Regions from separate parts of the Homo sapiens genome. Here all the other regions are linked to region 1. The links come from fine-mapping of genetic effects on gene expression. A gene starts in region 1. Each other region holds a variant in brackets. All regions are shown on one strand. Distances are from middle to middle.

Evidence for each region.
Region 2: its variant is fine-mapped to the expression of COL23A1 in whole blood (TOPMed, PIP above 0.99). The same link has a PIP of 0.9 or more in blood mononuclear cells and monocytes.
Region 3: its variant is fine-mapped to the expression of COL23A1 in thyroid (GTEx, PIP above 0.99).
Region 4: its variant is fine-mapped to the expression of COL23A1 in blood mononuclear cells (TOPMed, PIP above 0.99). The same link has a PIP of 0.9 or more in T cells and whole blood.
Region 5: its variant is fine-mapped to the expression of COL23A1 in whole blood (TOPMed, PIP above 0.99). The same link has a PIP of 0.9 or more in blood mononuclear cells.
Region 6: its variant is fine-mapped to the expression of COL23A1 in sigmoid colon (GTEx, PIP above 0.99). The same link has a PIP of 0.9 or more in transverse colon.
Region 7: its variant is fine-mapped to the expression of COL23A1 in blood mononuclear cells (TOPMed, PIP above 0.99). The same link has a PIP of 0.9 or more in whole blood.

Annotation. Positions count from the first base shown.
Region 1 is chr5:178,588,143-178,592,206 of GRCh38, reverse strand. COL23A1 (collagen type XXIII alpha 1 chain) reads left to right here and starts at 1,814. Exons shown (of 29, transcript NM_173465.4): 1 at 1,814-2,303. The coding sequence starts at 2,010. RefSeq lists a silencer at 1,613-1,812 and an enhancer at 2,468-3,368.
Region 2 is chr5:178,484,992-178,489,055 of GRCh38, reverse strand. All of the region lies in intron 2 of COL23A1 (collagen type XXIII alpha 1 chain), which reads left to right. Among named protein-coding and RNA genes, the nearest start is that of COL23A1, 100 kb to the left of the region's middle. The variant T/C (reference allele first, on the strand shown) is at 2,466.
Region 3 is chr5:178,303,967-178,308,030 of GRCh38, reverse strand. COL23A1 (collagen type XXIII alpha 1 chain) reads left to right here. Exons shown (of 29, transcript NM_173465.4): 3 at 1,112-1,156. Among named protein-coding and RNA genes, the nearest start is that of PHYKPL, 73 kb to the right of the region's middle. RefSeq lists an enhancer at 1,081-1,592. The variant C/T (reference allele first, on the strand shown) is at 1,704.
Region 4 is chr5:178,537,604-178,541,667 of GRCh38, reverse strand. All of the region lies in intron 2 of COL23A1 (collagen type XXIII alpha 1 chain), which reads left to right. Among named protein-coding and RNA genes, the nearest start is that of COL23A1, 51 kb to the left of the region's middle. The variant T/C (reference allele first, on the strand shown) is at 2,528.
Region 5 is chr5:178,239,661-178,243,724 of GRCh38, reverse strand. It overlaps COL23A1 (collagen type XXIII alpha 1 chain), which reads left to right. Exons shown (of 29, transcript NM_173465.4): 26 at 1,331-1,384; 27 at 1,597-1,683. Among named protein-coding and RNA genes, the nearest start is that of PHYKPL, 8.9 kb to the right of the region's middle. RefSeq lists an enhancer at 2,741-2,860. The variant C/G (reference allele first, on the strand shown) is at 2,416.
Region 6 is chr5:178,336,637-178,340,700 of GRCh38, reverse strand. All of the region lies in intron 2 of COL23A1 (collagen type XXIII alpha 1 chain), which reads left to right. Among named protein-coding and RNA genes, the nearest start is that of PHYKPL, 110 kb to the right of the region's middle. The variant G/T (reference allele first, on the strand shown) is at 1,519.
Region 7 is chr5:178,475,812-178,479,875 of GRCh38, reverse strand. All of the region lies in intron 2 of COL23A1 (collagen type XXIII alpha 1 chain), which reads left to right. Among named protein-coding and RNA genes, the nearest start is that of COL23A1, 110 kb to the left of the region's middle. The variant T/C (reference allele first, on the strand shown) is at 2,300.

The DNA.
Region 1 (4,064 bases):
TTCCCAGTTAGGGATGGTAATGGCCTCCCACTGTCAATACCCGCAGAGTGCTGCTTCGGCCTCCCCTGCTGGCCCCTCTGATCTCCACTTTGTGAAGTGGCTCTACATTCAGGCTGTCTTGAGTCACCCTCTCTGAGGATGCCATCTATTCTTCCAGGACCCTAATGGACACAAGTAAGTCATTTTCTTTTTCGCCTTTTAGAATGAGTTGCAGACAGTATTTCCATCTTAATTCAGCCGCCCCAATTCCCTGATTAATCTTGTGGGCCACCTTAAATTGGGCAGTCTGGGAAGATCTTTTAGAAGCAGTGAGGTTGAGGACCTTGACCTGGAGGATGAGGAGGGGCTTGCCGTTTAACGATCTGAGAGCAGGAATGCAGGTAGTGAGGTGGTAGGCAAGGGCAGAGGCCCAGGGGCCAGTGAGCTTGGCTTTTTCAATACACAGAAGCTTCAGGAACATGGCAAACAATACATGCAGTAACATTAACATAGGTAGGTGGTGTGCAGTTTATGTGCCTGTAAGAAATGTAGTGCTGACTTGTAAGAGGGTGTTGGCCTCTTTTCAGAATGAGGCCAACTTTTCATTCTATTGGGCATACACCAGACTTTAGCACAGAGCCAAGTCTATCAACCATAACCCCCGGCCATCTCAGGGGTTCCCCTCTGAATTAAGGGAAGGAGATGGAACATGTTAGCCAGAGGCACTCAACAGTTCTAAAAGGTGAGTATCCACAGAAATGAGACAACCAGAAGATATCCAGAGTGAGAGGGAAGATGGATATAACGTTATTTTTCTTAAAAAAAAATGGTTGGGGGGTTACTCAAATCACAAAGATCTGAACTGCTGGTTTGTTGTTTCATTTAGGTATTACAGGAGTTAGCGAAAGAGTTACTTGGGACCCATTTAGGACATGAATATGCCTGGTAGGAATCTGAACCCAGCCTGACTTCCAGCAGTTCTTCCCTTTCCTGCCAAGACTTGTTAGTGCCACTCATTCTGTTCTCTGGACCCAGGCTGTACGCCACAGCCTTCTTGCCTCAGCCCTGTGATTTAAATTTGCAGCAGAATCGCAGTACAGGTTAAGTGTGGTGCATACTAGATCATAATTTTTGGCCAAGTTGTGCGTCTAATACAGAATTAAGTCATCAGTTGAACAAGACTTGAAGTTCATTTTCTGAATCTTTCCCATTCGTTATAGTCTCAGTTTTCTCAAAAGCCCTCTCCAGGCCAGAAACAGTCTTACCATTTTTGTTTCCCGCACCGAAGTCCGGCAGCTAAGAACTCGTGAGAAGATTCTAAGGGGCGTATTTCTGTTTGGCGCAATCTCGACCCTGCCTCTCTAAATGTGAGTGCGCAGAGGTCGCTTTCCGCCACGAAGCGGCGCTAATCCACCACCGAGGACAGACCCACTCAGTTTTTTGCAGGATTTGAAGTTTTGAACTTTTACAAGTGTCAGAAAGGTAATTCACAAGTTTAGAGGAATGTGCTAAGGCACGAGTGGTGGGTGCTCCAGCCAGGGGTGGGCTGCAGAAGGGGCGCGGTGTCGCCGGGCTCCCCTCCGACCTCTGGGGTCCACAGTGCGGGCTTGGGCTGGGGAAGCCTCAGAGGTGCGTGCGGGGGCGGGTGCCGGCGCCCGGGCTAGGTGAGGGCAGAGGTGCGCGCTGCGCGTGGGATCAGCCCGGCGCCGACGGGTGGCTCCGAGGAGCTCGCTCCTTCCTCGCCCCCGCCCCCTCGCCGCGCGGGGCCAGCCCGGCCGCTCCTCCCCTGGGTGGGTCCCTGCTCCTTTTCTGGCAGGGTCTATTTGCATAGAGGAAACTGCCCAAAGTGGCCGCTGTGGAGGAGCTGGCTGCGGCGAAGGGGGCGTGCGCGGCGATCCGCTGCTACCCGGAGGCTAACCCCCGCGCCCGGCGGACCTCGTGCCTCGGGCTGTCCCGCCTGCTCCTCTCGCACCCAGCCTCTGCCCCAGCAGCACCGCCCCCTCGGAGAGTCCACGCGCGACGAACGCGCCATGGGCCCAGGCGAGCGCGCCGGTGGCGGCGGCGACGCGGGGAAGGGCAATGCGGCGGGCGGCGGCGGCGGAGGGCGCTCGGCGACGACGGCCGGGTCCCGGGCGGTGAGCGCGCTGTGCCTGCTGCTCTCCGTGGGCTCGGCGGCTGCCTGCCTGCTGCTGGGTGTCCAGGCGGCCGCGCTGCAGGGCCGGGTGGCGGCGCTCGAGGAGGAGCGGGAGCTGCTGCGGCGCGCGGGGCCGCCAGGCGCCCTGGACGCCTGGGCCGAGCCGCACCTGGAGCGCCTGCTGCGGGAGGTGAGCGTCTTGGCGCGTGGCTGGGGCGGACTTGGGTGTGTCGGGTTGAGGGTGGCGGTACGCTGGGAGCCGGGGGCAGCGTGCAGGTCTCTGGGAGGAGGGTCGCCCGCCGGCTGCGTGCGCTCGGGGCCGTCCCAGAGATGGGCACGTCTGCGCCAAGGCGGAGGCAGGGGGTGCCGGCCCCAAGGGGTTTTGCGGTCTCCGCTCCGGCCTCAGGGTCCCGTGCCAGGCAGGCGGCCGCGAGAAAGGGGAAGGAGAGACCAGGGACTTTGGAGTAACAGACCTAGGGTCAGTCTCCACGGGGTGTGCGCTCGGACACGCCGCTTCCCGCCGGCGGCCAGAGTCGGGGATAAAGATGAGGCTCGTGGGAAGTATCTGGTGACTGTGACCAGTAGCACCTACTGTTCCTAACCAACGCTGGTACACCTGGAGAGGCGGTGGTCACGGCGGAGGAAAGCCTCAGACAGGCCCGAGGGCTGGGCCCCGCTGTGCTCCAGTGTGTCTCCAGCAGCTCAGGCCCCAAGACTGAGCGGTCACCGTCGCACTGAGGCCTCGGGGATGGGGGTGGGGGCGCCCACATGACTTGGTAAGATGAGAGGAAGGAGAAACAATCGGGGGTGGAGGACCTGGATTCTGGTTTCAGGCGGTGCCATCTGGGGTGTGGGCTCGCAGGACATCCGGAGTTTCCCGTCCCTTACCTGGGAATCGCGACTTCCACAGCTTACTTGAAAGCTCATATGAGGCTCTGTGACACTTCTAAGGGTTAAGATTGCTGCTGTGTGTCTTCAAAGAAAGAGCCACCTTTGGGTCCTCCAAGCCCTCACCCAGCATGTTGGTCAAAGCCTCCGCCTTTTGTGTGCGGCATGTGCGGCAGTTCCCCTCCCCACGAAACTGGACAGGCCCTGGTGGGCTGGCCAGAGCCTCCCCTGCCGAGCCTTCCTCCTTCTCCTGGGATAGATGGCTGCTCCAGACCCCAAGGTCGCTGTCCAAGGGCGCATCCTCAATTGCTGTGTGAAAACAGGCAGGGTTTCAAGGTGGAGGAGAGGGAGCACTGGCCTGTACACCCCCAATTCCCTAGACTGCCCAGCTGGGATCTTTATTAACGTATCCAGCTGTGTTTCCAATGTTGAGTTCCTTTGGATTCCAAAGGAAAGTGGGAGAAGATGACTTGCGTACCACACCTCCTTGTTCACCCCACCTGTTTCTTAGTCACTTTAATTTAAGCTAGGATCACATCTCTTCTAGCTGGGTTCTGGGTAAAATTGCTGCTTCATGAAATGATTTCCTATTTTACCCTTGAAAGGGCCTGCAGACTTAAAACTCTCTCTCAGCCCTGCTGGAAACTCCTGGCGATGGTTTCATAATTGCCGCCCATTAGCTTTTGGCAAATGCCTGGAGACCAGGGTGTTGAATTGATTTATAGAGGGCCAGTAAAGTTTCTACCTGTTAGCGCTATAAGTGTGGCTGCTCTTTCTCATAGGAGGCCTCTCTTATTTGCTAAAAATAAACCGCAAGCCCTGATTGAGTAAATCAGAAGTCCTGATACAACCATTTTACAAGGAACTACAAATTGTGTCTATTTTAGGAGGGAGGGGCATCCTGGGCAGGCAGCCACTGCTGGGAAGTGTTGATTTTTGAGTCCTGAACTTCAGCGGGAGAGACTGCAGTTGCTCTCCCAGGCTTCCCCCCTCCCGGCTGCACTGAATTTTACCTGGGTGAACTACAGTGCTTGAACAATGAGTTATTGGACAGGGTGTGTGT
Region 2 (4,064 bases), 100 kb after region 1:
GGTCGACAGCAATAGGCCACAAGGATGAGGGGCAGATCCTGAGGGGCAGAGCCTTCCCAGGCGCTGAGTTTGGTTTAGAATGGTCTCTGCAGGGAAGTGCAGTGAAGCACCCGTTGGAGAGCTGGTGTGTTTGCACCGCTGCTCAGCGACTGCTCCTGTGTTTGCTGACCTTGCAGAAGTCCAGGTGAGTGCTCAGACACCACCTCTTCCTTCCTAAGCCTGGCAGAGCCCATCCCATTTGCTTCCTTAGCTACCCTCACGGAGCTCCAGAACTCTCGTCTGGTGCCTCCTTGAATTTACATTCATTGAATGTATACATTAAATATGTACAGTTGTTCATGTCAATCATACCTCAAAGCGTTTTTTTTTTTTTTAAAGAGTCATAGGCATATATGTGTGCTTCAAACTCCACGCACCGTTTTGTCTATAAAGTGGCGGCCTGCTGTGCAAATCTGAGTTTGGGGATAAGAAGAGAAAATTGGTGCAAGACTTCAACGATAGGTCTCATGTTGCATTTTAAGGAAAACATTGAATATAATTGGCGTCTGATGGCGGTGGCGGTGAGGGAAAGGAAGGAATACTGTATTCTGCCTGGAGAGATCACTAGAAATCTTCATGTGCCACAAAGGGAGAGGAGGTCACACGCAAATTTAGAGATTCCGGGTCTGGGGTCAGGGATTCTGCTCTGATCTGTGAGAGCCTTGAGGATGATGCTGTGAAAATTCAGCAGCTCCCCATCAGGCAGGTGACAGGGGAGAGGGCTATTCCTGGGCAAATCTCTAGCAGGCTTTTCTTGGGTTTATGTCATCTTCCCTTAATTGAATTCTGACTTTTCATATAAATTGAGAGGCCTGAGTGCACCAGATCACCCAGACCTTGCCAAATAAGAGCTTCATCTCAGGTTTGTCCCTTCTAATGAGGAGTGAGAACAATAGCTCCCCGGAGTGCTCCGTGTGTGCCAGGCACCCTGCCGTGGGCTTAATGCATTATTCTCATCATTCTCACAGTAGCCCAGTGAAGTCATGCCTTCATATCCTTGTTCTGCAGTTTCAAGGAGGTTAAGTAACCCAGCCAGGGTCTCACAGCCAGCACTGTCTTATTTGTTCTTAACCCCCAGCCACAATGTGCTCTTCTGCACAGAGCTGATGGGGCAGGGACACCAAATTAGAGAAAGCTGATGACCTAGAGCAGAGGCAGTTTCAAATGTGGCTCTTGTCTTCCTGTTCCAGTGACCCAGGGTTTTCAGTGGGATCTGGCTGTTCCGAGTTAGGATGGAACTGGGTATGTAGTTATCATGAGTGAGTTAGGGAAAATGCTGAGCAGCTAAACTGAAGTTTCTCTGCCTCCACTGTCACTTATCCATCCTCCCAGTTTTCCCAGGAGAGATAGGAGACGCTGTGGCAGTTGGGTCCCAGGACTCTCCGGAGTCATTCCCCGGACAGGCATCACATTGGGAACCTTACAGCCCCATAAATGTCTGGCCATCCTGGGGACTGCCTCATTTCACCCCATTTTAAAGTTTAACCATTTTAAGTTCCTTTAAAATAATACTGAGGCTGATACAAAAATTAGCTGAGCATGGTGGTTGCACGCCTGTAATCTCAGCTACTCAGGAGGCTGAGGCAGGAGAATCGCTTGAACCCAAGAGGCAGAGGTTGCAGTGAGCTGCGATCACACCACTGTACTCCAGCCTGGGCAACAAGAGCGAAACTCCTTCTCTAAATAAATAAATAAATAAATAAATAAATAAATAAATAAATAAATAAAACTGAGGCTGGTACCATGACTGCCTTCAGAGATTGATTTACCAGGGAAGCCCTGGCCTGGGCTGGAGATAGTGTGTCAACTGGGACTTGGACCTGGCCCCAGCCTGGAGCCTCTAGATTCTGAGAGCGTCCTGTGCAGAACACTCAGGCACTGAGGTGTCAACTGGGACTTGGACCTGGCCCCAGCCTGGAGCCTCTAGATTCTGAGAGCGTCCTGTGCAGAACTCTCAGGCACTGAGGGAGGAGCATGATCTGTGTAGGTTGATTCTGGAATGCATGAGCTACCAGTGGATAGAGAGCGTCCAGTTTTAAGTCCTGTGCCATTGATGTGGCCGAGGGTGGGGTGCAGCCTGGAGGTCCAGAGGAGGGATGTTTAATTTCAGCACCCCCGTCAGTTTCCTTCGTTTCCCCACTCAGGGTGTGAAACGCCATCTTAGCATCAGCTTGAAGTCCAAGGCGAGACACAGTAGGTTCCTGTGAGTCTTGCTTACACTCTTAAGTGTGCCTTCCAACTGGTCCTACTCACTTGGGCTCCTTTTTAGATACAGAGCCTCTTGGCCTTGGCATGTCTGAAGTACGCTTTGGGTTTTCTTTGGCTGTTTAGCTTCTGTCCTTCCTTTTTCACCCGGCTCTCCCTGTGGGCTTCATGTTTGTGGTCCAAGAGTCACCTCTGCTTTCACAAAACCACCCAACTGTCTC[T/C]TCCTGAAAGAGCCTCTTGGAATTTGCCAATTATTCGTTTCTTTTTTTCAACCCTCCCAGTTTCCTTTTCTCGTTGAGCGTAGTAACCGTTCGGCTTTTTGCTAACGGCCGTGTCTTGTCAACGTTTTGCTTTCTACACGTGGTAATTACGCAGTGCGCTCTGAGACTTCTCATCACGGTTCACCCTCGGGTATTCTCTGCGCTGGATCTTACTTATGCTGCAGGATTTCTTTGCCTCAAGAGTACTAAGCCTCCCTGGGCTAAGAAAATGCTGACCTTTCTGCTCATCCCGGTGAGGGGCCTGAGCAGCTTGAACACGTCACCCACTGACAACCGTCCTCATTCTGCAGCTGCCTGAATCTTGTCGAACACTCCCACATCTTCAGGACATTCAAGGTTGTTCACTTCTAGGGTGTTTTCAAAACTACCTGGTTGAAGTTTACAAGAGTCAAATCTGGTACCCAGCTTTACATGTGTATTGCACGTCCACATCAGAAAGTGACCAGGTCATTTCAAACAGTTTTAACTACCTAGCCAAGTGATTTTAACACAGGACATCATCAGTTGAGGGCAGAAGTCTTTGTTATCTTTCAAAGGTCTAGGAATATGCAATTTGTATTTGCAGCTGCGATTCTTTTTTCTGCAAAGCACCCCGGCACCCCTCCCACCACTGCTGCCCAACACAATGAACAGCTGGAGCTGAGGTTCCCCTGGCCACTCAGCTGGGGCAGATTTTCTTCTTAATGTCAAGTTTTACTCTGTACTCAGCTTACTCATCCTGACATTTCTGTGTTTTTTTTTTTTTTTTTTTGAGATGGAGTCACTCTGTCACCCAGGCTGGAGTGCAATGGTGTGATCTCGGCTCACTGCAACCTCCACCTCCCAGATTCAGGTGATTCTCCTGCCTCTCAGCCTCCCGAGTAGCTGGGATTACAGGCACATGCCAACACACCTGGCTAACTTTATTTTTTTGTATTTTTAGTAGAGACAGGGTTTCACCATGTTGGCCAGGCTGGTCTCGAACTCCTGACGTCAGGTGGTCTGCCCACCTTGGCCTCCCAAAGTGCTGGGATTACAGGCATGAGCCACCACACCCGGACTTTTTTCTTTTTTTTGAGACAGGGTCTCACTTTTGTCACCCAGGCTGGAGTGCAGTGGTGCAATCCTAGGTCACGGTAGCCTCAACCTCCTGGGCTCAAACAATCCTCCCACCTCAGCCTGCCAAGTAGCTGGGACTACAGGCACACACCACCACGCCCAGCTAATTTTTCTGGTATTTTTTGTAGAGATAGGGTTTTGCTATGTTGGCCAGGCTGGTCTCGAACTCCTGAGCTCAAATGATCCGCCCTCCTGGCCTCCCAAAGTGCTGGGATTACAGGCGTGAGCCACCACATCCTGCCTATCCTGACATTTCTTTACAAACAAAACTACACCAATTTCATATTGTTGGAATGAGGTGGGGAATAAAGGCATAAGCTAACCAATAGCATATTGCTGGAATTTTTGGAGTACATTTTTACACATTTCATTAATTTTTTAGGTCAAGATTGCCAGAGCCGTAAGCGAAGTCCTCTAAATTTATTTGTCTGTTCAACCCAC
Region 3 (4,064 bases), 280 kb after region 1:
ACATGCAAACAGACACACACAGACACCCACACTCATTTTTCCATCCTGCCACAGACGCGATCGGGGCCAGTCTCCTGCATCTCCTTCGTGGTTGTTCTGGAAATTCTTGACGGGGTTTGAGGTTGGCTTTTGCAGGAAAGGGCAGTGCCTTGTCATAGGGTCACAACCTGTCCCACTGTCGCCTCCAGGCCCAGCCCAGATCCTGGCATACAGTGGGTGAGCAAGACGTATCAAATGCCATTTACACATTGCAATCTTGTACCTGCACCCAACTTCACTGAAACAGGGGCGAGAAGGGGCGCCAGGAAGGATGGCAGTGAGCGCCACAGAGGTGAGGGGAGGGAGAGGGAGGCCTCAGACCTCTGCTCCCACGGCCAGAGTCAAAGCGTCTCCTTCAGCGCTGAGGTTACTCTGGTCTCAGGGTCTGATGTGGGCAGAGGGCCAGAGGCGGAGGTAGGGGGTTCTGCACCGTAAATTCAGAAGGGCTTATAGCGCGCGGATGGAGGACAGACGTGGACAGGAAGCCCAGAAGGCGGCTGAGCAGCTCCCTGGCTCTGGGGAAGGAGGAGCTGGAGGCCCCAGCGAGTGGCGGAGACTGCAGGCGGATCGTGTAGTGCCTGTCATGAGTGGATTTCGGCGCTGCGCGGCCGTGATGGCCTCTTTGTTGTGTTGGCTTTGTTGTTTTACTTTAGTGAATATGAAGCAGCGTTTGTCAGGGCTTTCCTAAGATAACCCACCCTTACTTTCCTCCTAAGTCTGAAGTTTCTCAGCTGCAAACGCATCTGCCTCAGGAGCCTCCCATGGGAATCTTTGTGATTAGGGGAGGGCTTAGGAATGACTGAGTGAGCCGATGATTGAATGACAGAATGGGTGCGTGGGGCATGAGGGATGCGGCCACCTGGGGAGGGGGGTTGGCGGAACAGGCGAGGTAGTGGCAGAAGGAAGGGGTTTCTCCCCACGCATCTCCCCCTCCACAGCCAGCAGACCCCCTCGGGCAGGCCACTCCCAGAAAGCTGTTGCGAGCGGACAGGTGGGTGGCTGGGGCATGCCCCACGCAGCCAAGTCCACTGGCTTCCCTTCTCAATGAATGCATTCTTGTTTTCCTGTCTAGGGCCCCCTGGACGGCGCGGCAAGCCTGGGAGAAGAGGCGACCCTGGTGAGTCCCAGGTTTTCTCAGCTCCTAAGCCAAGGCTTGGAAGCCACCATGGCCCCAGGCTCTGACTGCAGGGCCTGGCCACCTGCTGCCCACCCTGAGTCATGCCTTGGTCCTGGGCAGGTGCTCCTCCCCCTTCCAAGTCCAGCTGCCGTTTCCTGAGGCCGCAGCACCCAGTACTGCCTTTCCGGGGCTTCTTGGCATTCACAATTCCAGGACTGTCCCCTCTGCCCCCAGTCATCCCCCGAACCTCGTTGTTGGCCCCTAGTCCCCCACTCCAGAGCAGCCCCCTCTCTCTGAGGCAGAAGGTGATGACTCCGCCAGCCACACCCTCCCCCATGGGTCCTTCAGCACAACCGGGTTCTCCTGTGGGTTTCATCCCTCCCCAGACGTGGCCTGTCCTTCCTTGGCAGAGCCGCCAGGAGGAGACTCCCCCACCTCCCTTCCCTGCAGCCCACAGAGGCACCTGTATTCACCACCCTTCCTTCCTGCTGTCTCTGCTTCACCCAGAACTCCCCCTACCCAGTCCCCAGCAGATTGCCCCCTTCGC[C/T]CAGGGACTTCCCTAAGCCCCTCTGACATCGTCTTAGCTAAAGTCATGCTGACCTCTGATGGCCACACTGGATGCTTTGCTGTCTTTCTCTTTCTTGACCCCCACCCTTGGCCACTCCCCCATGCTGGGCAGTCCCGGCTGTCTGGGCTGCGCTTCCTCCCTGCGCTTCCTCCCTCATCTGTGACCCGGGCTCCTTTGCCATTCTCACGGGACCCACCTGCCCCGTGAATGAATCTCCCTTGGTCGTCTCCTCTCCTCTCTCCCACAGTCTCCCACTGCTGTGACACTGACCATGTCCTCTCCCTGCCTCCAGCCACATCCTCTCCTCCGGGTCCCCGAGGTTGGACGTTGCCCTGCCGAAGCCAGCATCTCCCCCAGCTTTCTTCCCTGGGCTTCCCCGTCACAGGGAGGAGGCATCTAGCCACCTGCTTCCCTGTGTAGACACCTGGCTGCATCCTCGATCCCTTCCCTGCCCACGCCAAGTCCCCATGAGCCTCCTTCTCCATGTCTCGGACCCATGTCCTCTTCTCTCTTCTCACTGCCGTGACCTCCTGCAGCTCTCATCACCCCCCACGCCATGTCCCCACCTCCAGCCTCACCATGGATGTCCAGGGCTCTCCACCTTCTGAGCCTTCACTCTTATGTCTTCCCGCACCCAGAACATCTCCTCCTCTACCTGGACTCCCACCCCAAGATCATTACCCTTTGTCCTTCAAGCCTAGCTCAAGCATCTCCTCCAAAAAAACCTCTAATGGTTTTGTCCAAGAGGTATCGCCCCACACTCAGCACGGGCAGCCCCCAGGCATGTAAATGCACAGAACAGCGAACGAATGAATGCCCAGCCCCTAAGCAACTTCACAAGGTGGCCATGGTGACGAAGCCAGGCTGGCTCACCACCAAGAGGACCCCGGGCCAACTGGGCCCAAGGGGAGGCAGTGGCACGTTTTCTCCAGGCCTCAGACTCTTCTCCCTGGAGCTGGGCGCAGGCTTTCTGCCTCCTTGTTCCACTGGTTTGCAGTGTCGAGTTCCTTACGCAGAGACCCTCCAGATACACTCCTTAGCGCTCACCGGCAAGAAGCACCCTTCATTTCTCTCTCTGCCTTGACTTCTGGAAGCTGAAGCCTGTTTTGAGTTCAATGGCTGGAGCTTCCTTTAGCCTGGCTTCTGTGTGTAATCACCCGAGACCCTGCCAAATACACACTTTATTACTCAGCTCTTATTTTCTACCCTCGTAAAGGGTTTTATTGCCTTTTATTATAAGTTCCTGACATGCTTTTTGGAAGGAGATGAGGAACACAGAGTCATTTTTTTAGGACAAAGTATGATATTATTCAGCTTACTCCAAAATCCATTTAACTTATGACTCAAGTTTAAAACAACCTCAAAGTCAAGGAAAGATAGACTCACTGGGTCCGTGGCCCCGTGCTGGGCTCTTTCAAGTCCTTTATCTCATGCGATCCTCAGACACTGCAAGATAAGAATATGTTATTATACCCACTTGCTGATGAGGAAACTGAGGCTCCAAGGGGTACAGTACCTTGCCAGAGGCCAGCTGCTGGCCAAGGGGTGGGCAGGATCCCTCCCCCTCATTGTTTTTCCAGTGTGGTGTCCCGATTGTCTGCCTATCCAAAAACAAAGTGAGCTACACAGAACAGACGTGCCTCTCTGATGGGCCTTGTCTGGGCCTTGAGTTTATTTCTAGATAGTTACACACATATGCACATCCTGGCTTTCATGCCTTCCCTTGTATAAGGAGGCCGGAGGCCTTTTTCCTGTGTCTCTTGGGAGAAAGCCTTTTTTTTTTTTTTTTTTTTTTTTTTTTGAGACAGTCGCTCTGTCACTCAGGCTGGAGTGCAGTGGCACAATCTCAGCTCACAGCAGCCTCTGCTTCCCAGATTCAAGCGATTCTCATGTCTCAGCCACCTCAGTAGCTGGATTACAGGCACGCGTCACCACGCCCAGCTAATTTTTGTATTTTTAATAGAGACGGGGGATTTCACCACGTTGGCCAGGCTGGTCTTGAACACCTGGCCTCAAGTGATCCGCCCGCCTTGGCCTCCCAAAGCTCTGGGATTGTAGGCGTGAGCCACCGCGCCCACAGAGAAAGGCTCTTTTTTGCCAGGTAGGGCAGTGCCCGGCTGGGATTCCTCCCTGAGGCCGCTGCAGGCCTGCAGATAGGGTGATCCTGCCTGCCTTCAGTGCAGTAGCCTCCCTAGTTCCCAGCAGGAGCTCCACAGTCCTGCAGTGTTTCTATGTCTCTATCTGAAATGGGATGGATTTCCCACCTTCCCCTGGCTGGCTTCTTAGCTGGAGAATCCCAGAACTGTGCCTGCACTCTGGAGTCATCTTTCTTTCTAAGGG
Region 4 (4,064 bases), 51 kb after region 1:
CGTATGCATTTCTGTTGTGTACAAACCTTACAGCAGAATTGCTGGGCGTAAGGTATACATATGTTATGTTTAGTAAATAGTTCCAAATCTTCTGAGACAGAGTCTCACTCTGTCACCCAGGCTGGAGTGCAGTGGCAAGGTCTCAGATCACTGCAACCTCCACCTCCTGGGTTCCAGCGATTCTCCTGCCTCAGCCTCCCAAGCAGCGAGGACCACCACACCCGGCTAATTTTTGTATTTCTGGTAGAGACGGGGTTTCACCATGTCGCCCAGGCTGGTCTTGAACTCCTGGCCTCAAGTGATCCACCCGCCTTGGCCTCCCAAAGTGCTGGGATTACAGGCATGAGCCACTGTGCCCGGCCCCAAATCATTTTTGAAAGAGGGTGATAGTCCCACCCAGTGTGTTTGACAATTCCAGTTGCTCTGCATCCTCCCCAACACTTGGATTTTCTGTCTCTTTTCTTTTAGTTATTCTGGTGGCTTTGTAGGTCTGTTTTTGGATCTTTTTGCTGTTCTGTTCTATTTGTCTATCCATGTGTCGATACTGTTATTTTAATTCCCAAAACTTGATAGTTAGTATTGATAATAGAATAGAGGTTAGATTTTCAGGATTGCCTTGACTGTTCTCAGTCATTTGCACTTCCATAGAAAGTTTAAAATGTTTGACAATTCCCTTAAAAATAAAAAAGATAAACAGCCCTGCTGAGATTTTTAAAAATTATTTCTTTGTTTCATTTTTTGAGACAGGGTCTTGTTCTGTCCACCTAGGCTGGAGTTCAGAGACGTGAACATGGCCCGCTGGAGCCTGGACCTCCCAAGCTCAGGCGATCCTCCCACCTCAGCCCCCTGAGTAGCTGGGACCACAGGCACTCACCAACACACCTGGCTTCCTTTTGCAGAGATTTTTTTGTAGAGATGGAGTCTCACTGTGTTGCCCAGGCTGGTCTTAAACTCCTAGGCTCAAGCCATCCTCCCACGTCAGCCTCCCAAAGTGCTGGGACTGCAGGCATGAGCCACCACGCCCAGCCACCCTGCTGAGATTTTGAATGAGATTCATTGAATATGTATTAATTTAGACAGAGTGACATCTTTACACTCTTCAGGCCTCCGATTCATGAACATGGTATCTCTCTCCATGTATTTGAGTCTTCTTTAATTTTGTTTGATAATGTTTTATAGTTTTGAGAGTAGAGGTCTTACACATCTTTTATTAGATTTATTCTTAGAATTTAATTTTTTGTGTGTGAACTTGTGTAGATAGGTAAGAATTTAAATGTTGTGTGAATATTAAATAATAATATTTTTAAAATTTGCTTTCTGTTGGTGATGACTTTTCATGTTGGTCTTGTATCTAGTTACCTTGCCACATGTACTTGTTAATTCTAATATTTTTAGATTTTCCATGTATCTTCTACCATACCATCTATAAATAATTAGAGTTGTGTTTGTTCCTTTCCAATTCTTATGCCTTTTGTTTCTTTCACTTGATTAATTGATTGTCTAAGACCTTCAGTAGTGCTGAATAGAATTGGAAATAGCAGGCATCCTGGTTTCATAACTGAACTCAGAGGAAATATTAAAGGGCTTTTGTAAAAAGTGATGATTAGGTGTTACAGTTTGTCAAATAGTGTTTCTAAATTTATGAGATGATCATATGACTTTTCCCCCTTTTTTCTGTCAAAACAGTGCATTATATTAATTGATTTTTAGGATGGTAACCACGCTTGCATTCCTGGAATAAACGCCAGTTGGATGGGATATATTATTTTAATATGTTGCTGGATTCAATTTGCTAATCTTTTGTTTAGGATTTGCATCGGTCTTTATAGAAAGATGGTCTAATATGTGTTCTTCTGTGGTCCAGTTTTGGTATAAGGTTATGCTGGTCTCAGAACAAGTTGGGAAATGTTACCCCATTTCTATTCTCTGGAAAAAAATGTGTAAGGTTTAGTGTTGCTTTTTTTCTGAAGTGTTTGGAAGAATTCACTGGTGAAAATATCCAGGCCTAGAATTTTCTTTAGATTTTAAGTAATTAAGTCACATGTTTTAATAGAGAACTCTGCTTCATTATTTCTTTTTTTTCCCTTTCTTTCTTTTTCTTTTTTTTTTTTTTTTTTTTTTTGAGACAGAGTCTTGCTCTGTCACCCAGGCCGGAGTGCAATGGCGCAATCTCAGCTCACTGCAACCTCCGCCTCCCGGGTTCAAGTGATTCTCCTGCTTCAGCCTCTCAAGTAGCTGGGATTACAGGCACTGTCACCATGCCCAGCTAATTTTTGTGTTTTTAGTAGAGACAGGATTTCACCAGGTTGGCCAGGCTGGTCTCGAACTCCTGACCTCAGGTGATCCATCCACCTCGGCTTCCCAAATTGCTGGGATTACAGGCGTGAGCCACCGTGCTCGGCCTCATTATTTCTCATAACAGCTTTATTAAGATTGAAGTCAGACACCGTACGGTTCATCTGTTTAAAGTATGCAATTCAGTGGTTCTTAGAGTATACACAGAGTTGTGCAACCACTTCCACAGTTA[T/C]TTTCAGAACATTTTCATTGCCCCACACAGAAACCCTGTCCCCTTAGCCGTTAACCCCTAAGCCCCTTCCTACAGGCCCTGCCAACCACGAATCTATTTAATTTCTCTAAAGCCTTGCCTTTTCCGGACATCTCATGGAAATGGAATCACACAACATGTGGCCTTTTTCATCCGGCTTCTTTTACTTAGTGTAATATTGTCAAGGTTCATTCGTGCTCTACTATGTATCCATACTTGATTCTTTTTTTATGGCTGAGTAATGTTCTGTTGTATGGCTACTCCACAGTGTGTTTATCCTTTCATCAGTTGATGGACATGTGGGTTTCCACTGTTTGCTTATTAGGCATAGTGCTGCCATGAACATTCTTGTACAAGTGTGTGTGGGAACATATGTTTTCATTTCTCTTGGGTAGATAGCTAGGACTGGAATTGCTAACTCACGTGCTTCATTATTTTTTATTGCTAAATAATAATAGGGATATACCAAAGCATATTTAACAGCTACCTTATTGATGGGCATTTAGTTGTTTAAGTTTGCTGTGAAACAGTGCTCCAGGCTGTGCTACTCAAAATGTGGTTTGCAAATGGATGCCAGCCCTTGAACTGTTTGTTATGGTTCTCTAACAAGATTAGAATAGAAATGGAGAATGTGTGGAAACTTTTATGAAAGCAATTTAAACAGTAATTTTATGTCTACTGAATCTAATTTTTTAATAAAATGGGCAAGTACTTTTATGTTTTTGGTTATTTAAATTTCATTTTTCTACCCCATCATTTTAGTGTATTTTATAAAAGCGTGGGTCCCTGACAAACTGGAAGTTAGAAAGATAAAAAAACAAGCAGCTTTTCACTCCAGTTAGGTAGAGAGGCGTTAAGTTTCTTCCAGTGTGAGCTTCTGCGGGAATCTGCCTAGAGGTGGAATGCCCAGCCCTGAGCGGTAAACGAGCCCTCTGGGGCTCTTGTGTGAGGAGGAGGGAGGAACATCTCCCCTTCAGCTCCTCTGTGCTCAGGATGATGATGAGCTGTAGCACAGATGAATAGACAAACAGAATGCAGCATATCCATACAATAGCATACGATTCAGCCTCAGAAAGGAAGGAAATTGTGGCACAGGCTGCAAACGTGGATGAATTCGACTAAGCCAGTCACAACAGGACGGATACTGTGTGATTCCACTCATAGGAGGTACCTGGGGTGAGTGCCAGGGGCTAGCCAGGGAGAACGGGGACAGCTTCTGTTTGGGAAGTTGAAGAGCTCTGGAGGCGGACGTGGTGATGGTGGCACGACAGTGTGAATGTACTTACCGCCACTGAGCCGTGCACTTGTGGCTGCCATGGGAAACGTCATGCCACGTATTTTACCACTTAAACGTCGTGCCGCGCACGTTTCACCACGTAAACGTCATGCCGTGTATATTTTACCACTTGCACACACAGTTTCAGTAAAGAAGGCGCCTGTCATGGCCTTGCCCTGTGGCTGGATGCTGCCCCACAGCCGCCTTCGGCAGACCGTGGTGTCCATTTTACAGAATTGTCAC
Region 5 (4,064 bases), 350 kb after region 1:
CCTCCTCAACCCCAGAAGGCCCAACTATAATGAGGACCGTGCTGAGAAACTCCCCTTGACCCCCACCTGTGATAGAACAGCCCTTCCCTCCAGAATCCCACCACCCCTATTTCACACCTCTGTCACTGAGCATTGACTGTCATCAGCACTCTCTTGCCTGCCCCGTTACACGTGAACAAGGGACCATGTCGAATCCAATTCTCTTTTTAAAATTGTTTCTTTTTTTTTTTTTTTTTGGAGATGGAGTCTCACTCTGTCCACCCAGGCTGGAGTGCAGTGGCATGATCTCGGCTCACTGCAACTTCTGTCTCCCGGGTTCAAGCGATTCTCCTGCCTCAACCTCCCAAGTAGCTGGGACTACAGGTGCACGCTGCTAGGACGGCTAATTTTTTGTATTTTAGGAGAGATGGGGTTTCACTGTGTTGCCCAGGCTGGTCTTGAACTCCTGAGCTCAAGCAATCTGCCTGCCTTGGCTTCCCAAAGTGCTAGGATTACAGGCGGGAGCCACCATGCCTGGCCTCTTTGTTTGTTTTTTGAGACAGAGTCCCGCTCTGTCGCCCAGGCCAGAGTGCAGTGGTGCGATCTCGGCTCACTGCAACCTCCACCTCTCAGGTTCAGGCAATTCTCCTGCCTCAGTCTCCCAAGTAGCTGGGATTACAGGCGCGCATCACCATACTCGGCTAATTTTTGTGTTTTTTAGGGTTTCGCCATGTTGGCCAGGGTGGGTCTCAAACTCCTGACCTCAGGTGATCTGCCCACCTCGACCTCCCAAAGTGCTGGGATTACAGGCATGAGCCACCATGCCCGGCCACAATGAATCCAATTCTGTGTCCCCAGTGTCCAGCCAACAGCCCGGTTCCTAGTGGATGTTAAGCCACCTTGGTTGGGTGGACGGACAGATAGATGAATGGACAGATGGGTGTGCAGGAAGTTGAGCCAAGGGCACAGAACAGAGATCACCATTTCTCATCCCATCAGACAGTGACATAACTTCCATGGTTTCCGGGGTCTCTGTCCCCAGCCAAGCCTAGACCAGTGCCAGCCGCGTCTGTGATGTGAGAGACAGCCCCTTGCCAGCAGCTCTGCCTGAGTGTTGGTGTCCAGCGACTACTTTGGAGCAAGCCCAGCTGGCATCGTAAATGCATGCTCTTCCTACATCAGCCTTGTACCCAGCAGTGTATCACCTACAGCTAGGGCTAGGCCAGCGTGTGCCACGAATATGCAGGGGGGAAAGTGGGCGTGTGGATGGGAGAGGAACAGAGATGAGCCGGTAACAGAGGGGCAAACCTCCAGCCTCATTTTCGGGTTTAGCATCTAATCCTTTTGTCAGGGTTTCCCTGGACCCCGAGGAGAGAAAGGTGATCGGAGCGAGCGTGGAGAGAAGGTGAGGGCAGCTGGACGGGAGCTGGGGCAGGAGGAGAGGGGGAAGGAGGCAGGTGGGAGTGGAGGCTCAGGTGAAGCAGGTAGAGAGAACCCAGGCCGGGCAGGTGGGCGGAGGCAGGGGGAGGCTGGCCCCACGCGCTTCTCTCGGAGAGATGTTGGAGGTTCCTAAGCCTGGCAGCCATGACCAATACCACCATCTCCCCTCCTGCACAGGGAGAACGAGGGGTCCCCGGCCGGAAAGGAGTGAAGGGCCAGAAGGGCGAGCCGGGACCACCAGGCCTGGACCAGCCGTGTCCCGTGGTAGGTGTCGGAGGAGGGCCCTGCCCCAGGTCTTTTTGGCCTCCAGCCAGGGTCAGCCCAACATCTTCCCTGTCCTCGGAACTCAGCTGCAAGTCCCAGAGGCCCCACTGGTCACGCACTGGCCTTCCTCACTGTCAGGGCCACTGCTGCTGCTACTGCCATCATCGCGGTTCCCCTTGCTCTGGTCCTAACCACCCCCAACCATGGGCATGACTCAGGGAACCCAGCCCCTCTGTAGAGCTGGAGGCCCAGCCCCTCATTCTTCACCCCCAGGACAGGCCTGGCTTGAGTAGGAACCCACTGTGGGCCATCTTGGGCTGGAAGTGGACAGGGCCTAGACCAGGAGTGGAGGGGCTTTACCTGGAGTCATCAGCACCATCAGCGGTGCCCTGGGAGGGGGCTGGGCCCTGCGGAGGGAACCAAAGTTAGCACAGACACGCTGCCGCTGGGGGCGGAGGCAGTGAGTGCCCAGCCCCATCGCTGTGGTCTGGCTGCCTGGGGTGGAAGTCGGGGTCTGACTCCCACTGGGCCTGAGGCCAAGCTGAGCTGAAACTCAGCTTCCCCAAGCACAGACGGTGGGACCACCCTGACCTCTCTGGCTGGCTGTGCCTCCCCTTCCTTCCTCCTTCCCAGAAGAGTCTCTCTGGGCTGGGGCAGCACCTCCCTCTTCCCCACATCCCCTCTGCCTACCCCCACACCCTTCCTGTACCTCTTTCTGTGCTCTCTCAGTGG[C/G]CTTTGGCAGCCCACCAGCCCCAGTGGTTTCAGGCACTGGTGCCTGAAACAACCACAGTTCAAAAGTCAGCTCCATTTATTTCTTTTCGGAGACAGAGTCTCACTCTGTCGCCCAGGCTGGAGCGATCATGGTTCACTGCAGCCTCCATCTCCCAGGCTCAAGTGATCCTCCTGCCTCAGCTTCCCAAGTAGCCAAGAACTACAGGCATGCACCACCATGCCCAGCTAATTTTTAATTTTTGTAGAGCTGGGGTCTTGCAATGTCGTCCAGGCTGGTCTGGGCTCAAGCGATTGTCCCACCTTAGCCTCCCAGAGTGCTGGGACGACAGGTGTGAGCCACTGTGCCCTGCCTAGTTCCTTTTTCTAGAAAGTAGGGAGGGTTTACATGTCACACTCTTCCGGTGGAGCTCAGAAAAGACAGGAAAAACAGAACAGCTGGGTTTTCGTACTAAAACTGGACAGATATTCAGACGTGGCCACTCCAGCCACGGGGATGTGTGCAGGCCGGCCTCAACCTCCAGCGGTGCCAGAGTTAGAGACCCCCTCCCAGACCTCTGGCCTCTGTTCCTCAGTGTCCTTATCCCTGCAGTGGGGGATACCGCTCCCCTCGGACAGTTTTGAGAAGTCAATGAGAAAAGGACTTGAAGAGCGAAGTGGTCAGCGCACAGAAAGGGCGGGGACAGCAGGGGCAGGGTGGCCCAGCCCCGCAGCTCCGGGGCCTGGCCCAGGACTCCCCTCCAAATCAGTAAGCCCTTGTCTCCTTTGAAACAGGAGAATCCCACGTGCGGAGGCCGGAGAGGGGCACCAGGCTGGCGGGGCCCTGCGAGGGGCAATGGGCCATGCCCTGCGGTAGGCGGCCTGGCCTGCTGTGTGCCGTGTGCCGTGTGCTGTGTGGGCCTTCGGGGCAGCCAGGGCCCTTGGCTCTGCCCCGGCCTTCCTCGCTTCTGCTTCCTTTCCATTCTGCCCCCCTCCCCACCTTCCCTTTGGTGCCTAGCCTGGTCCCTGGTGTACACATGGGAATATTCCAGGGGATGCCCAGTGTCTGAGGCTCATTCCTGTGCTTTGGAACAGAATGACATGTTTTGCGCCTTGGTGTCCCTGATGAGTCAGTCTTCGTTCCTCTCCAGTTTCCCCACCCTCCAGGCTGCCTGAGGAAACCCGGCCCCTGCTTATGTCTGGCTCCTGGGTGGGCACCACAGGTGCCGCTAGATAGCCCTACCCCAGGCCCAGCCCCAACCCCCAGCAACCTGAGCCTGCCCTGCTCCAGCCAGCACAGGCTGGAGCAGGATGCCAATTCCTGGGCCATCCTTAAAACCCTCCAGGAGCCATTCCTGCCCAAGGCCTGAAAGCTCGCAGGCCCCAGGGTGAGGAGCCAGAGTGACCGTCACATCAGGCAGGAAGCCACACGGCTCTCAGCAGGACCCAGGCCAGAGTCACTGTCACATCAGACAGGAAGCCACACGGCTCTCGGCAGGACCCAGGCCAGAGTCACTGTCACATCAGGCAGGAAGCCACACGGCTCTCGGCAGGACCCAGGCCAGAGTCACTGTCACATCAGGCAGGAAGCCACACGGCTCTCGGCAGGACCCAGGCCAGAGTCAGTGTCACATCAGGCAGGAAGCCACACGGCTCTCGGCAGGACCCAGGCC
Region 6 (4,064 bases), 250 kb after region 1:
AGAATCCCCGGTGTCCAGTTTGCCATCAGCCAAACACATGCAGAGCCTTGATGGGTATTCCCTGTGTGCTCTGGGACCATCAGCTTCTCCTGAGAGAACTTCAGGCCACTCCTGACCTCTGCGTCAGCCCCTGGATTTCCGCAAGATTCCTAGATGGTTCGCATGCACCAGGGATTTGAGAAGCTCTGACCAAACGGAGCAGCCCACACTGTGGGCTTCAGATCCTTCAAGGCTGGAGTGTAGCTGGAGTCGTGGTGTGGAGCTGGGCTCTTCAGTATCTAAGGCAAAAGCAGAAGTGAACGTTAATTGCCAAGGAGACCAGCTTTTATTTCCCCTTCTACCCCTCCTGCGCTGGAGCCACCAGCAAAGCTGTTCTGACACATGCTTCTTGGATAATTGTTTTTCTTACATGAGCACATTTTTTGGTGAGGCTTATTGCTGGTCAGAAAGGTGTCCTTGTTCTCAGCCAGGCCCATCCCTGCAGCAGGCTCCCTGCCTAGGAACTTTCATAGGTGCATTCCTCATGAGAACGCTGTGAGGAGGGAGTATGATGCCCATCTCATGGCTAAACATGTGAGATGCCCAAGGTCAAACAGCTAGAGACAGGCAACACCAGAATTCATCTCCCTAACCCGTCCATCCATTCATCGACCCCTCATCCCTCTACTCATCTCTTCATCCCCCAACAGCCACCCGCCACCCACCCATCCCACCACCTAATCATAAGTCATTGTTGCAGAATCACATTTTAGGTGGGATTTTTATTCTTGCATAAGGCAAAAATTGTACATGTTCCAAATCACTCCTGAAAATCTCTCAGGTTACCCATGAAAGCCAGGAATGCTTCCTCTCTCTGCCAGCCCCACAGAGCTCCAGTGCTGGGGAAAAGCAGCTAGAGCTGGCATTCAGAAGCCCTTGAGTTCAAGAAAGTCTTCATCACCAAACTCCAGAGTTCAGCTGGAGGCTCCCACCCCATACAAGGCAGTGGGAAGTGAGGCCCACTGAGGCGCTGGCAGATTCACGTCCCCCCACTCATGTTTACTCCAGTGCATAAAGGAACATATCCTCAGTGCTTACATCATTTTTCTCTTATTTTCCCCCACACATGCTAGCTGGCTGTGAGGTCAGTGAGAATGCCTCTCCACCACACAGCCAAGGATAGGCTCAGTCCCACGCCATCCCCTCATGGCTTCAGCTGCCTGCTGGTCAGTGCAGGATCTGAGGCTGTAGTAACAGGAGCACAATGCCTTGAACAAGGGAGGTGTTTTTCCTGCCCTGCTCTGCTCTGAGGCTTAAGGATCTCATTTCGGGAGTCTTAGTGCAGAGGGACAGAATGTATTGGATGGGGCAGGGCCAGAGAAGGTTTTCAGGATGGCGGAGGCTTGAGGAACACACACCCTGTAGAGATAATTCTGGAAACTGTGGTCGTGGCTTTGCCTGTCCATCTCTTAGGAGGTTTTGTGAGGAGAGGTTGGGTTTGTTCTGTATGGCCCCAAGGACCCAGACGAGTGCTGAGTG[G/T]ACCTGAGGCAATGGGTTTTAGTTCAGTGGAGGAAGAGCTCTCTAATAGGCAGAGCTATCCAAAGACAGCATGAACCTCTCTTTGAGGTAGTGAGCTCCCAGTCAGGGGAAGTGTTCAAGGGGAGGACACATGAGCACTCCTCTGGAGGCTGGAAGGGAATTCCTGCCTAAAGCAGGAGCAGTGAATTCATGACCCACAGGCTCATGCAGCCCTGAGCTTCTGTTTCCAAGCCCTAAGATGTGTTGTTGATAGAGACAAGCCTCAGCCTGTCTCTGGCCTTCATTCAGCTGTGATAGTCTCATCGGGTTTACATGTAATTTAGACAGATTCCTGTTAAGCCAGAAGGAAAAAGAGGCAGAGGATCCCCCTTGTGTGGGCACTTGGTCGCCCTCTCTTCTGATGCCCTGGATCTGCATATCCTCAGCTGGTCTCTGTTCCCCAGGACCCCCCCATTAACCAAATCATCTGGAGTTTAAGTACATGGTTCCCACCAAACACAAGCCGACTTCTCTACCCGATGCTGGCCAGTGACCCAGGAGCAACACCTTACCCGGTGCTGGGTGACCCAGGAGCTACCCCATTCCCGGTGCTGGCCAGTGACCCAGGAGCTACCCCATACCCGGTGCTGGGTGACCCAGGAGCTACCCCCATTCTTGGGGGAGCAACCTGCTGCGCTGCTGTCATTAAAGGGCTTCCAGGATGACGGCAGCGGCGCCCCAGCTTGCACCTGAGCCACAGTACCATGCTCTTTGCGGGAAGGCAGTCCTTGCTGAGAGTCCTGTGGGTTGTGGGATTAGCACCTGCTGTCCCTGGGGCTTCATTCTGAGGGCTTGACCAGCCTTTGCTATCTCACTGTGCCCTCTGGACTGTGCCCTCTGGACTTCCTGGAGATCAGGCCCTGAGACTGACACCGTCCCTCTCTGGCCAGCCTGGTTCTGAGGTGGGTCTGTCTGACTGTGCCAGCTGTGCTGTCTGCCTGGGTCCCTGGCAAGGCTCAAGGGACTTTCAGAAGCACCTGATACCAAAAAGTCATGGCTAACAGCATGGACCCTGGAGTCAGACCGCATGGGTCAGTTCCCCTGCCCATACTCCCAAGACTCCCAAGATGTGTGGCCCCAAGTACAGCCCCTCCGTTTCTCAGCTTGCTCTAACATGGAGATAACAGTGGCTGCCACTTCACGGAGTTGTCAGGAGCCTGGGTGAAATGATACACGCAAAACACAGTGCCTGGCATGAGGTCACTGCTCCATAAATGTCAGGGATTATAATTTTAACAATAATAATGAAAAAATATATAAACAAATAGATTGTATAATATCATAAAATATAATAATGATTAAAATTATCATTTTTTTGACTCCTCCATGACCCCATGAGCCTGTTTGTTTCCATCACCAGACGCTAATGGTGGACAGTGAGTGATGCTTTCGTGCCAGGAAGATGGGGGGTGTCTGTGGAGCAGCCTCAGTCTCTGGGGACAGAGGAAGCCTGCAGTCCTGGATGGCGGGGAGAGCAGTGGCTCCTGAGTGTCCCCAACCTCCTGCCCCCTCTACAGCGCCTCCCCCAGCCCGGCAGAGCCCACCTACCCCCAGAGCAGGGAGTCTGGCCCTGGAAGGATGCTCTCCATAACCCTGCACCCCACTCCGTCTCTCTGTCTTTCCACCCACTCTGGATGTGTGGAGAGCCTGGCAGTCAGCCCAGTTTCTGGAAGGGTCTCATGTGTTTGAACTCACTCCAATTTATGGAACCAATTTTCAAACTAAGGAGAGGTGACGTCTGGACTGTGCCATTAGAGCCCGCCTCCAGAGTGGAAAGGTGGGTGAAATCTGTTGGTTTACAAACGCTCCAACTCCCACGGGAACCTCTGCTCCTTCCCGGGGTCTGGCCGGGGATCACCGGGACAGGAACACGCATGCTCTCCTCGCCCTCACACGCGGGTCTCTGCGCTCCAGCAAGTGCACGCAGGCTGTGGGGAGGATGGCTCCACACTCAGACCCCTCTCAGATGAGCGAGGCCGGCCTGGCGCAATGTGTCGTGGCCCACACGTGCAACTTCCATGCTGCACATTCCCTGATGTCCTCCGCAGGCCCCCCTCCCATGGGAAATCGAATTCCAATAGGGGGCAGGGACAGACTGGAGAGATCTGCGTGATCCCTGTTTCCGCCGCTCTGAGCAGCTCGCTGGCTCCGGGGAGGAGTGTATTTACTCTTTGCAAGTGCAAACCCACGCCTCGGTATAGCAGAGGCCTTGGAAAAGCAGCTGCAGGAAAGTTGCACTTGTTTCAGCTTTGCCTTTTTTTGTTTTTTTCCTTCTACCCTCTTAGGAGAGCCAGTTTTCCCTCCTTTTAATTTTTGTTTTTAAAAGCACCGTTAAGTCCAAGATGAAACAGATTGCTCTGCCAAAAGGAAGACGAACTATTAGCTGGATTCTTTTTTAAAATTATTGAAGTGAAATTCACATCACATAAAATTAACCAGTTTAATGGAACATTTCAGTGGGGTTGAGTACATTCCCAGTGTCACACCACCGTCACTTGTATCTCGTT
Region 7 (4,064 bases), 110 kb after region 1:
TATGATGTTCACACAATGACACAATCGCCTAAGGACATGTTTCTCAGAATGCATCCTGTCATTAAGAGAGGCATGACTATATTTTAAAGCAAATTCGGACGCCTTATATTTCACTTACAAGTATTTTGTTGTTCATCTCTCAAGGATTAGGGCTTTTTTTTCCTTCCTGCATAACCACAACGTCATTATCACACCTAAGATTAACATGAATCCTTAATATTACAGAATTTCAACCCCAATTCACATTTCTCCACTTGTCCCTAACATGTATCATCTCATCCTGGCATTTCCCAGACTCCCTCTGGCCACTTCCTGGGAACGGGTCCCATGTACTCTGGTCTGAAGGAGCCATGTGTCTTCCTGGGGTGTATTAAAGAGCTGTGGACACCTGGAGGGGAGAGCAGCCTCACCGGCCGCTGTGGCGCATGGGTGAGCCGGCATCTCCATGGCAGGTGATAAGAGAAGCTGCCCAGTAGAGGAGGCAGGAGGGACATCAGGGCAGCAGCTCGGGGTTTTTTTCGTTGCTGTGGTTAGGAGCACAGGCGTGGGAGTGAGAGCCTCTGTTCAGGTCCTGGCTCCCGACCTCCATAGCTGTGTGATTTGGGGCAGGGGGCTTTACCCCTATGAACCTCCATTTCTTCAGCTGTAAAATGGGTATGAATAAGGGTACTTGCTTTCTAGGAAATCCTGCACATAAAGCGCCTGATGGTGTTAAGTATCTGTGAGTGTTGGCTGTTGTCATTACCACGGTCATCATCATCATCATCATCATCATGAGGGTGATCCTTGTGTCCTGATGAAGGTCCTGGGCCACTGAGATGGCTGCCCTGGCACATGGCTGTCTCCCTGGGCCTCACATGGCCCAGGAAGCCAGGGTGACAAGAAAACTCAATGTTTTTAGGAGTAGCTCCTCTTCTCACACTGACAGCATTTTGGAGCCCAGTATGGCACCCGAATCCAGAAATTCTGGCAGAGTCTGTGCCGCATGCCTTTCTGGAGCCAGGATCTCTGTGCCTTTATCCTCTGGGGTAAGTCTTCTCATAGAGTCTTCTCTGAAGCAAGAGGGCACCCAGAAGGCTCTGGTACCCTCAAAAGGCCCATCAGTGTCTTTCCTGGCTACTTTGCTTTAAACCCAAGAATATCTGGCATCAAAGATAAAACAACTGGCCTCGGGTATTTTTCCCAAATATTAATTGAAAACATTAACTTGATTTCTCCAGACACTCTCTCTGTGGACACAGGAAGGGAGGGGTTGGCAGGCACAGGAAACGTTTGCCGCCCAGCTGGGACCCATTTCAGGGGAGCCCACCCAGATGTTTCCCGGACTGTGGGCCTCAGTGCTGGTGTGGGGGATACTGGATGGAAAGCACAACTTCCAAGTAAAAGGGAACAGAGCTAGGAAAATATGCAGAATCTGGGCAATGAAGAAGTGACATGTAGGTTGTATAAGAAATGGCACTATCGTTTTGAGTCTGGAGGCCAGTTCCTCTGCAGTGGACTCCTCATAGCCCAGGGGAACAGTTGTTCCAGTTAGTCCCGGATAACCCTAGGTTGCTTCCCAGGTGTCTCAACCCCTCACTGCATTCTCCTGACCCTCCAGGCATCTTGGCAACCCACTGATTCTCCTGGCCAAGCCCTGGTGAAGATGGCATCTTCCCATCTCACACATCAATCTCCTGTACAGAGCTCGGAAGGGGCTTTCATCTTTAATGCTCCAGTGAGGTTCAGGGAGGCCTGTCGGGGGCCCGCAGGCACTGTCTGGCTCAACTGATTGAGGCCCTGCAGGACCGCCCCACCCAGGCCCAGCCTCTTCCCTGCCTGTTCTCTCCGAGGCTAGAATCCCATGCTCCCTCCTCCCACACCCTGGGACCTCCCTCAGGTGGCATGAAGGGCCTAGGAGGAGGCTGCCTCTCTGATAACTGGCACCTGCCTTCTCATGTCTAGTTTTGTCTAAGTCTCAATTTTCTCATCTGTGAAATGGGGTCAATCACTCCTACCTCCTACGGCTCTCGCAAGCATCAGAGTGGCAGACTTCACCCATTAGCACCAGCATCCGAAAGAATCCCAGCCTGTGAAGCAAATGACTCGGGCTGTATTTCAACAAGGCTTTCCTCTCCCTATTCTACCTTCTCCAGGGAAGAGCGGGAAGGAAGGAGGGGTACGTTGACAGTTGCACACATACATGTTTTCACTCGCAGAGGGTTCAGGCTGTTTTGCATTTCTAACACGAACTTCGGGTGTCCTTCAAGGTTTTTGCTTCCTGATTAGGCAACATGCACAGTGATTAACCACTTCTCCC[T/C]TTGGGTACAAACTGTCTAAAAGACCCACTGGCGCCTAATAAGGAGACATGAAAGACACTCTTTTGAGGACGTTCTGCTTCTGCTGTCTGCTTTTCATTTAAACAAGCCATTTGTTTTCAGTCAAGATGGATTGCTGGGTTACATTGGTGACTCAGCACCCTGCATAAATATGGGTAAAACTAGAAGATTCTGTGACTCCAGTGGGGCAGGGAAGATCCATGCCTGACAAGCCTCTCTGCCTCTGCCATAGCATGAGTTGATGCCTTCCCCAAACCCCAGTCCCTGTTTCTCCTGCTCAGAGCTCTGTGAGCCCCAAGATGACTTCATGGTTTCGTTGTTTTCTGAATCCTTGGGTTGCCCTGAAAACAACCTCTTCCAGTAAATAGAAATAAAAGTGCTTCAAAGTCATGTCAACAGCCGCTATCTCTCAGCCTCTTATGGCGCTTTACTGTTTCCATGAGGCAGATCCAGCCGTCATTGCTTACAGAGCCCCTTCCACAGCCCCTGAGAATATCCGAAGCCACATATTCTGTTAACCCTACTATAGGGATGGGCAAAGTGAGGCCAGAGGAGTTGGGTAACACAGGTAGAAAATAACAAAGCTAGGATTGGAAACCTGACTTTCTGACACTTTGGGTTCAAACCCTGGCTCTACCACTTTATATTTGGAATCTCAGAGAAGTAGTTTAAGTCATGTGAGTCTTAGTGTTCTCACCTGCATAACAGAGAAGTTAACAGTGTCTGCACCAAAGGGAGGATGAGATGACATTGCACCTAGGAGGTCCCTAGCATGGTGGCTGGCACAGAGCCAGTGGGCCCTGGCACTGTCTCTGATCTGGCCAAAGTGGCCCCGCCCATGTTGTTGACAGGCACACACCACGCACATCCAGGGCCCTTGTGGAGTTCACAGAATGCTGCTGGTTACAGCGCCACAGTGGAAGAGGAGCACGGCAGGCAGAATCTAAGACAGCCCCGAGATTCCTGCCCCCAGCGCACACGCTTTGTATTCTCTTCCCTTAAGTGTAGGCAGGTCCGTGGATATGATGCGGTATTACTCTCATGATTATGTTACATTATATAGATAAGGGAATTTGCCATTTGTTCAGTGAAAGGGCAAAGCGGCCCCCAAATACCAAAGGAGCCAAAAAACCAAAGAAGAGGCACACAAATCCAGATTGTCAGTAAAGGTTGATTTATTGGGGAACTTACAGACAGAAGCGTGGTCTTGGGTGGCTGCAGGACAGGTAGATCTCCACTCTGTTACTCAACAGACCAAGGGCTCTTATACCGCTGGGAAAGGGGTATGTGCTCCAGGGAGACAGTGGGAGGCAGCCCTACAGAACGGCAGGCATGCTGTATGCGCCATTTCCTATTATGACGCCTATTATTTGTGGAGTAGCATCAAGGTTGACATGTTCTTACACTAGGGACAGTAAACAAAGTAGAAATCAGGGGACATTCACAGGACTAGGGCTAATCAGAATTCAACATGGCAGATTAGCGTCCAAGATGGAGTCACTGTTGTGTCCACACCAATTGTAATTAAGTTTACTAATCAGTTGACTTCAAGTTTGCCGAAAGGGGGATTATTCTGAGTGGGCCTGACCTAATCACATGAGTCCTTTGATTCTGGGTCTAAAGATCAGAGATAGACGATGTCCAAGGAATTCGAAGAATTAGAGGCCTTCGCAGGGGTCCTCCCAGCCAGGAGCTGTGGGCAGCCTCCAGGAGGTATGAGTGGCCCCCAGCCAACAAGCAAGAAAA